Linked DNA regions of Homo sapiens: region 1 is reported to be linked to region 2. The links are microRNA targets in miRTarBase. Many come from high-throughput screens and were not tested one by one. Region 2 holds a microRNA gene; the other region holds the end of a gene's coding sequence.

The links. The annotated mature microRNA hsa-miR-190a-5p reads UGAUAUGUUUGAUAUAUUAGGU and lies in region 2 at 3,058-3,079, opposite strand. An mRNA with a match to its seed (bases 2 to 7 or 8) in the 3' UTR can be bound and repressed. Matches are read on the target gene's strand: a 7mer-m8 pairs with bases 2 to 8, a 7mer-A1 pairs with bases 2 to 7 and ends in A, and an 8mer does both.
Region 1: the mRNA of HBS1L is a reported target of hsa-miR-190a-5p. The part of its 3' UTR that is shown has no 7-base or 8-base seed match.

The regions. Positions count from the first base shown.
Region 1 is chr6:134,961,216-134,965,556 of GRCh38, reverse strand. HBS1L (HBS1 like translational GTPase) reads left to right here. Exons shown (of 18, transcript NM_006620.4): 18 at 267-4,341. The coding sequence ends at 278. Among named protein-coding and RNA genes, the nearest start is that of ALDH8A1, 13 kb to the right of the region's middle.
Region 2 is chr15:62,822,647-62,827,049 of GRCh38, reverse strand. MIR190A (microRNA 190a) reads right to left here and starts at 3,093; the gene lies at 3,009-3,093. The region is part of intron 54 of TLN2 (talin 2); the gene reads right to left.

The sequences.
Region 1 (4,341 bases), not on the chromosome of region 2:
GTTGCCATCAATATCACATTTAATCTATCAAGGCATTCTTTCTAAAAGAGCATTCTAAAAATAAGATAGAGTCATTTGTGGAGAATAATGGAGAGATTATAGTAAATTGCAGAAATGGCATGACTAGGAAAGGAAGAAAGTTGCAGGACAAAGAAAAAGATTTTCTCTTGATATAATAATTCTTTCACCATAATTTTCCCTTTGTTGTTCTTATAATGTGATTGATTAAATTACAGCAAATGTCTTTTTTTTTTTTGTTTTAACAGATAAAAGAATGATGGGTCAGAATTTCTACCACGTTTCTGGATACAGTGAAATAGCTAACCTCTGTTTCAAGAATGCAGTTATTAAGTCAAAGGAACAATGTGCAATTGATATGTTTTTAGATGAGAGAGAAAAATTAAAGCTAAAATTAGCTGCAAAGAAGTATTAATAATCACCTCTGCAAAAATTCTAAGTTGCCAACTGGCAAAGAAAGTCTAATGTTAAAAACAACTTTGCCTTTGAAACGTTAATAAATGGATTTACTTTGCTAAGATTTATGGCAAGTGTCAAAAATAGTATCTGAAGATACTGAATCATCATGAAATGAACTCTACTTCTGGCCAAAGCACAATGTATTTGCAGTTTTCTCTTTTGATTCAATTATACTGCACATGTTTTAAGGAAAAGTAACTTAATTGGGTTTTTCAGGCAGTTGATATTTGACCTAAGCTTTTTTTTTTTTTTTTTTTCCAGTTAATGCTAAGAAAAGATTTGGGGAAGGTTATAATAAAAGTATTTTGTGGTGACCATAAGAATGTCCCTCCCCAAACAAGTAAACTTGTGAAAGTTTAATTTGGAATTAGTGGAAGCTGTTCCTTTGAAAGCCAAGATATTATTTAAGTTGTAAAGCCAGCTAATAAAATGCCTTAGTTTGAGCATAATACAAACTGTGTTTTGTTCTTTAGACATTTATGAGATTCTCTGCCACTAACAGTAAATATGATTTAGGGGTTTTGTGGGATCTTTTTCACCTAAGAGTTTCCTAGCTCTGTCACATGAATTCTTTTTTATCCTAATGGCAGATCCAATTTCATCTCATTCATTTTTTTAACCATAACTTGCTTTTCCCATTCTCACTTTTAGAATTATACCTATGATGGCCCTTTCTTTATCTTGCTTACCTTATAGATTATAAGTCCCCTGTGAGTAAGTAAGAGTCATGTTTTTCTTTAAAGTTTCAACAACAAACCCCAAGGTTTATTTATTTAACAACAGGTATTCGTTGAGGTGCCTTCTGGGTGCAAGGAGCTTTAGAGTAGATTTTGACCTCAGCTGAACCTGGAACTCTGATCTGATAGACTGTTTATGATAAGCTTTTTTTTTTATTAGCAGCGTGATTTGTATATCGATGGCTTAACATATACAACAGCATTTCTTCTCCCTGCACCTTTTCGTGAACCTGACATTTTGAACATAAGCAATAACATCTGTATGGTAAAGTAGGCAGATTATACATGTGTTGCTTAGTGAATGATTACCAAGTGAACACACTTGGTATATTGCTTTACCAAAATACATGTGTAGTTGTCACTTCAGATTCACTGAGTTAAGAAAGTTTTATTTAAATATTAATATTAATCAAGAATTTAACAGATATATGTGACAGAAATCTAACTTCAAGTGACTGAAGCAGAAAGAAAAATTTTTGAATGACATAACTGAGAAAATTAGAGGTAGCTCTAGCTTTGATTCCATTTAGATCGAGCAGCTCACACAATGTTAGCAAGGACTCATCTCCACTCTGCCTTCCCTGGTGCTGGTTTTGCTCTCAAACTCTATATAGAACTCTCGGCCGGGCGCGGTGGCTCACACCTGTAATCAAAACACTTTGGGAGGCTGAGTCGGGAGGATAGCGTGAGCCCAGGAGTTTGAGACCAGCTAAGGCAATATAGTGAGACCATGTCTCTACAGAAAAAATTTAAAAACAGATCAGCTGGGTGTGGTGCCACATGCCTGTAGTCCCAGCTTCTCAGGAGGCTGGGGTGGGAAGATCACTTGAGCCCAGGAGGTCGAGGCTGCAGTGAGCCATGATCACATCACTGCAGTCCAGCCTGGGTGACAGAGCAAGACCTGTCACCCTGCCACCCATAAAAAACCTCTTCTGTAATGCCAGGTTCTTGACAAGATGTGATAATTCCACACTTACATCCTCAGATCTCCCATCCAGGGCAAGGACAGACTAAAAGAGCATATCTTCTCCAGAAGTCCTAGAAACATCTCATCATTGACTATGATTGAATTTTATTTATTAATACTTCCCTAGGATATCCTGTGTTTGAGTGTGAAGTTAATATCACACAAAGCATGTAGCTAACAGTTGTGTGAGGGTTGGAAATTCAGGGTGCTGTTAGGAAGGGGAAATGGATTGGGGTTTAAGGTAGGGGGAGTAAAAACAAGAAACCATCCACTCTGTATATTATATAAGACTGTGATCGAATTAAGAATTTTAGTTTACAGTTTAGCATAAACAAATAGTAGTAGAAATGAATGCATTTATTCATTCCTTCCTTCTCCAATAGTGTTTAAGTACAATCTTTTTATTTGCATTTTATTGATGATTGATTGTGGTTGAAAGGAGTGGTGATATTATTTCGAGGATCCACTGTGTAAGAAGACTGTTGGCAGTGGAAGGCTCGAGTTGATTAAGTGACAAAGAGGTAAAGCAGACATGCCCAAGCTTGGTTATGCTCTGATTTCCTACCCTGTTACTTTCATCCATAATTTATAGTACATCCATTTTGTGTCATTTTGCTTCAGGTATTTCTTGTCCTGACTGTCTTCTTTTTTATGATTTTACTGTTTCTTCACACTAATGGCTTTGTCCTCTGACTTTGACTCTTTGTGAGATTCTTCTGAGCAGTTAACCTCTAGGATAATGTGGCTTGAACACATTACAGAACTATGTTTTGACTTGTTAGTATTATTCACACATTCATGACAATTGAGCCTCTCTACTGTGAGAAATGTTTTAGAGGCCAGTTTCTAGGCATAGCTGTTTTTCTCCCATGAGTATGCAAATCAATAGTTTTAACCATTGTTAAAATGCAATCATAGTGACTTCAGAAAATTTGGAAAATACAGAAAATATAGGGAAGAATAAAATTAACCCACAGTTCTGTCACCTAAAGGTAACTGCTGCCAATGTTTTCATGTATTTCTTTTCTGTCTCTCCAATGCATTTTTTTACATAGTTGTGAGCGTTAGCCAAGTTATTTTCATGTTGTTATGTAATCAATATTTTTCAATAGAAGTATTAGAGGTTTTTTTTATTGATATAAAAATAACAATTACAGATCCTGATATATAGAAGTTATTCAAAATTATACAGTTTTCAAAAAATCAAGACAAGTAGGCCCAATACAAACTACTGAATCATCTTCTAATTTCCCTCTAAAATATTTATAGAAATATGTAAGTAGAAAAACATTCATCCTTTCCTCGTCTAATTATGATCCTGCCATATTCCAGGCACAAGAGAAAGCTCTGGGGCTTGAGTCTTAATAGGGCTGATAGTCCAACCAGGGGACAGGGTATCATAAAGAGATAATTCAAAACTTTAAGATTGGAGGGTAGGTGATGGTAGAAAATTCTGCGGCAAACATTTGTTGATGCTCATCATTTGTTGATGTCATCAAAGATCACCAGGGCATAATTATAATCAAAATTAGTTTTATTGATGCTTGCTGCAGCAAGAGAGACTGCACACCACTGGGGTCTATGGGTGCTTCTCAGTGGGAAGGTGTAAGGAGGGGCTTGCTAAGAATTTGAGCACATGTAGCTAATTTTAAGGAGGGCTCAAGTGAGCAAGGGTTTCTTCTGGATTGAGTGCTGTCAGAAAGTGGATTGAGTGCTGTCAGAAAGTGGGAGTGATTTTGCAACTGGGTATCTTAATTTTTATGTTGTGGGTGGGAGGAAAGGAAAGAAGCAACAGTCACCCATGTTAGCCACAAGAAGAGGTTGGCTGTTTATGGTTTGCACAGTGACTTTGTTTTTATCTGTGCTCAGGCATGATTACAGTATCTCATTTTATCCGGATTACAGTGACCTCATCTGATGTTAGAGATTTGAGAATTGTTAAATGTTCAGCAGGAGAACGCCACCGCCTAGTGTGAATGCTAGGTCAGAAGCTGCTTTTTCACACTGAAACCATTTAAGTATGTACAAATAAGTTAATAGTGTAAATGTAGGTGTAAAATACAATGCAAAACAAAATAATGAAGTAAGTGAATTAAATTATTGCACCAAATATGGGGATATGAAATAGGGAAAGAAAAGCATTAAGTTACTTATAGTCCA
Region 2 (4,403 bases):
CTAAAAACACAATGGTCGCCCTTCTCACAACTGGCTCCACAAACTGAAGAACCACCCGTGTCATCTTTCCAGTGGGGTCTCAGGCTTTGCTCTGTGTTACTCAGAGTCTTGCAGAATGCCTGCTACTAAAAATAAGGTCATAGTGCATCAGAAACTTTAAAAAAACCCTCTTGGATATATATTTTTTAAAGTGTGAACATTTTGCATTTAATTTAAATGTCCTTGAGGGAAAAAAGGAGGCCAGTGTCTAGAACTCCCACAACAGGAGTGAGGCATTTTCCTGCCAGTTGGAAGCCGGAGTGGAGCAGGCAGCCACATTTCTCTTTTTTTTTTGTTGTTGCAAGTTTGGCTGCTACTAGTTTGCTTCTGGTATTGAACTGAGAGGTGCCTTGAGGGAGGCCTTAGCCTGTATGCAAAGCCCCAAACTGTGCAAAGGTTAGATCAGCTTCTCCTCTGGAGGACCCATGGATGGGGTGGCTTCAGGACTGCCACCTTTATTAGTTCAAACAAAAGGTACACCTCCCAGAACAACTGGAACTGCTAAGAGCCAGGCATGGACAGCTGGCCTTGTCTCAGGGAAAGCTCCAGAGAGACCTTAAACAGGCAAAATGGGTGGCAGAGAAACTGCCAAATGGCTGTGCCTGTGACTGGGGAGGGACCACACCCTCCGCATCCGAGGAATACGCGCGAGTTCATGCAGTGTCTGCTGGAAAAGGTCCGCACCTGCATGATTAGTATCTTGGGAGTAGTTTTCCCATAGTATCCATTGCTTTACTTTTGTGTTCAAAATGGAAAGCAACGCCACTGAAATAATCTTTTAATCACTATTTCTGTTTAAGGGGCCCTTGAATGTCGATATAGAAAGCACAGACAAAAGATAACAGGGTTCTTCCCAAGCTGTATCAGATAAACTCCCTACATCTTAAGCCCCCTTTCTGTGTCTGTGAAGGATCTGACAAGGACCTACTGGTCTACCCTGGAGGGGAGTCTCCCATACTTGCTTTTCTTATTTATTTATGTTTTTGAGACCGAGTCTCACTCTGTCACCCAGGCTGGAGTGCAGTGGCACGATCCCGGCTCACGGCAACCTCCGCCTCCCAAGTTCAATCGATTCTCAGCCTCCTGAGTAGCTGGGACTACAGGCGTGCACCACCATGCCTGACTTATTATATATATATATAAATATATATATATATAATATATTTATATATATTATATATTATAATATATATTATAATATAATATATAATATATATTATAATATATAATATATTATATAATATATAATTATAATTATATTTAATATATATAAAAATATATTTTTATATATATTTATATTTATATATATATTGTATTTTTAGTAGAGACTGGGTGAAACCCAGCTGTTGGTCAGGCTGGTCTCGAACTCCTGACCTCAAATGATCCGCCCACCTTGGCCTCCCAAACTGCTGGGATTACAGGTGTGAGCCACCATGCCCGGCCCCATACTTGCTTTTCACACCCTGTATGCTCCTGGTCTGGAACCAATGAGTGCCACTCAAAGCCCAAGTGCAGCCATACAGAAAATGCTGTATTTGTCCTCCTCCTTCCTGAACAGTTGGTTCCTTTTTCCCTTCACCATATTAATCACTACAGAGAACATGCTGGTCAGTGACAAAGTCACCCAAAGAAACAAGAAAATCACATCAATTCAAACAACTGGGCTTCGTCTGCAGGTCCTTTTGAAACCATGTTTTTCTTTGTTCGTAATAACTTGCTGTCTCTTTTCCATGGCCATTTGCCATTTCAGTCAAACAATGTAACTGGACTCAAAACCAAAGCCGGTGTTCTCTAGCTGTGTGAAGGAGGGACTGATTGGGGCAGCATCTTGAAACCCGCCTGACAGAGCACCTGCCAACACACACAGATCGCTTCTCAATGGAGAAGGATTCCAGAGACAGGATCCATTATGTAACTCCAGAAGCCAGGACTCCAACATTACAGGACCCTCTCCTGTGTCATCACCTCTCTGATGTTGCTGTTGGTGACCCTGTCACTATGCATTCACCTGTAAGCAATGTGGCAATGACTTCTAGACACAGTAAGGGGAAGCTTTCATGACTACCTGTTTAAACCATTTGCTTACACCTTTTCTCCTCCAAAACATTGAGAACAGTAGTTCTCTTTCCAGAAAGCAGTGCTCACAAAGTATTTTGTTTGTTGAGAGAACTCAGAATGAACTCACACATACTTCACAGGCTTTTCTATAAGGAAGAGGTCAAAACCAACCAAAGAAGGCTGTTATGTACCAGAAAAAATGTTTTCTATATCATAATCCCAAACTTCCTGCCACAGTCAATTAGGCTATGATATTACTTTCCGATTGTTGGCTTATTCTAAATATTACCAACCTCCACTGACAAGTTAACCTATAACAGGAAATTCAAGAGTTCAGTCAACATTATATTACCTTCATGAGATATATTTAGTCCTATATCCAAGGTTTGTACAAAGCTCACTGACTCAGTATCCATGCAGCTGGTATGGAGGATTTGCTTTATACATTCTGTTACTGTGAGTGGAAAGGGAAGTCATAGAAAACTGATCTGTGCTCCTTGAATTTTTGCTGAAACCCTGACATGAACTTCTAAATTGAAGATCAGGATAAAAATGAACCAAAATGAAACATGAATCTAGATGTGTTTGAGGCTATAATCCTGACCTTTATTCTGTGTCACAGACATGGGTTGGAACCGTTTTTTCCACCAAGCATATTGAATTCCTTAAGGATTCATCACTGCACAAAACTAAGCCACACAGAATACCCCAGGCTCTTATGAAACATCAACACTTATTGTTTCTATAATAAGCAAGTAATCCAGTAATACTGATACAGGTCTCAAATGCTATAAGAAGAAATGGAAGATAACATGAATTGTAATGAGTGCTCCATCTTCTAAATCTACTTGTGATTTTAACGTGTTCTTTCCTGTTGCCTTATAAACTTTATTAGGAACCCCCGGAGACAGGGCAAGACACTGTAGGAATATGTTTGATATATAGTTGGATTAAATAACAACCTAATATATCAAACATATCACACAGAGGCCTGCAGAAAAGGCATCCAGGTTTGACTGAGCTCGAGACTAGGCACAGTATTGAAGGTTACGGCTGCAGGGGGTGGTCACTTTTGCAGCAACTCCGATAACTGTCTTTGGAGCACAAGTCTGCCTGCAGATGTGGAAACGGCGCCATTAACAATACTGTCAGCACATGCACCAGCGCTCACTGACATTCTCATCTCCCCAGGTGAACAGCAGATTCAACGGTGCATGTCTGGGAGATCCCAGGCAAAAAGTGATGCTTAAGTTTTAAGAGCCTGAGGTGGAAATGTACCAGAATCATCATCAAAGACCATGAGCCATTCTCCTTTAAAAACAGGCAACCTGAGACGGTGGTGAGCAGAGCATTTTAGACAAAATTACTGTCTCTCCCCAAACTCTTCCTGAAAGCAGTGTGAATACTCCCCAGAAGGAACACACATCCATTTTATACTGAAGGCATGTGTGTGTACCAGGGTAGGGTTATAGGGATGTAATAAGCAATTGTTTACTGACAGTACCCTGAGGATTTTTTTAAGGTTTTGGGAGAGAATGGAGAGAAGTGATTCAACTCAAAAGACTGGCTGATTTTGGTGCAGATTGTTGTTATTGTTTTTTAATTGGGGAAATAAATTCCTTTATAAAGGCAAGGAAGATATTTCATGCAAAAGTTATTGCAATGTGCCCTATTAGGCACAAAAACTATGGTTTGGGTTGCAGGTTTTCCAAAACAGTTTCATAGATAATATCCACCTCTGGCCATCAGGCAGAGAAAGACTTCAGACCATTGTGAAGCATTCTAGAAGTACCCATCACCCTTCCTAATACGATGGGAGTGAGCTAAGGTAGGAACCCTCAAACAAAGGATTCACATCATCAGTTATGTTAACCTTGACCTTGGCCGAAGGACTCCTTGGCTTTCCTGTAAAAACCCTCAATGTAAACACAAAGGCTATATGATCCTAGAGTACTGTAGGGAGTCCTCACAGGCCTACTTCAGCAGTCATTAATTTTTAAGGTGCTGTTATTTTTTAAACCTTTGTTTTATAAAATGTTAAAACACAGACCCTTCCATCATCCCAATTCCATCATCATTCTTGTACATTCCCTACTTATTTTCTTCATCTGTGAGTTTTTAGAGTTGTAATCATAATAAGTACATAATTCTGCATCCTTTCTGTTATACCATGAGCATTTTCTTCGTGCTACACAGTCCTAGCAACCATTATTTTTCATAGCTGCATAATATTATAGCTGCATAATATTCCTTCGAGGAGTAGCTCTAAGGGCACACATAAACTACAAATGGCCTTTGTGGGACTA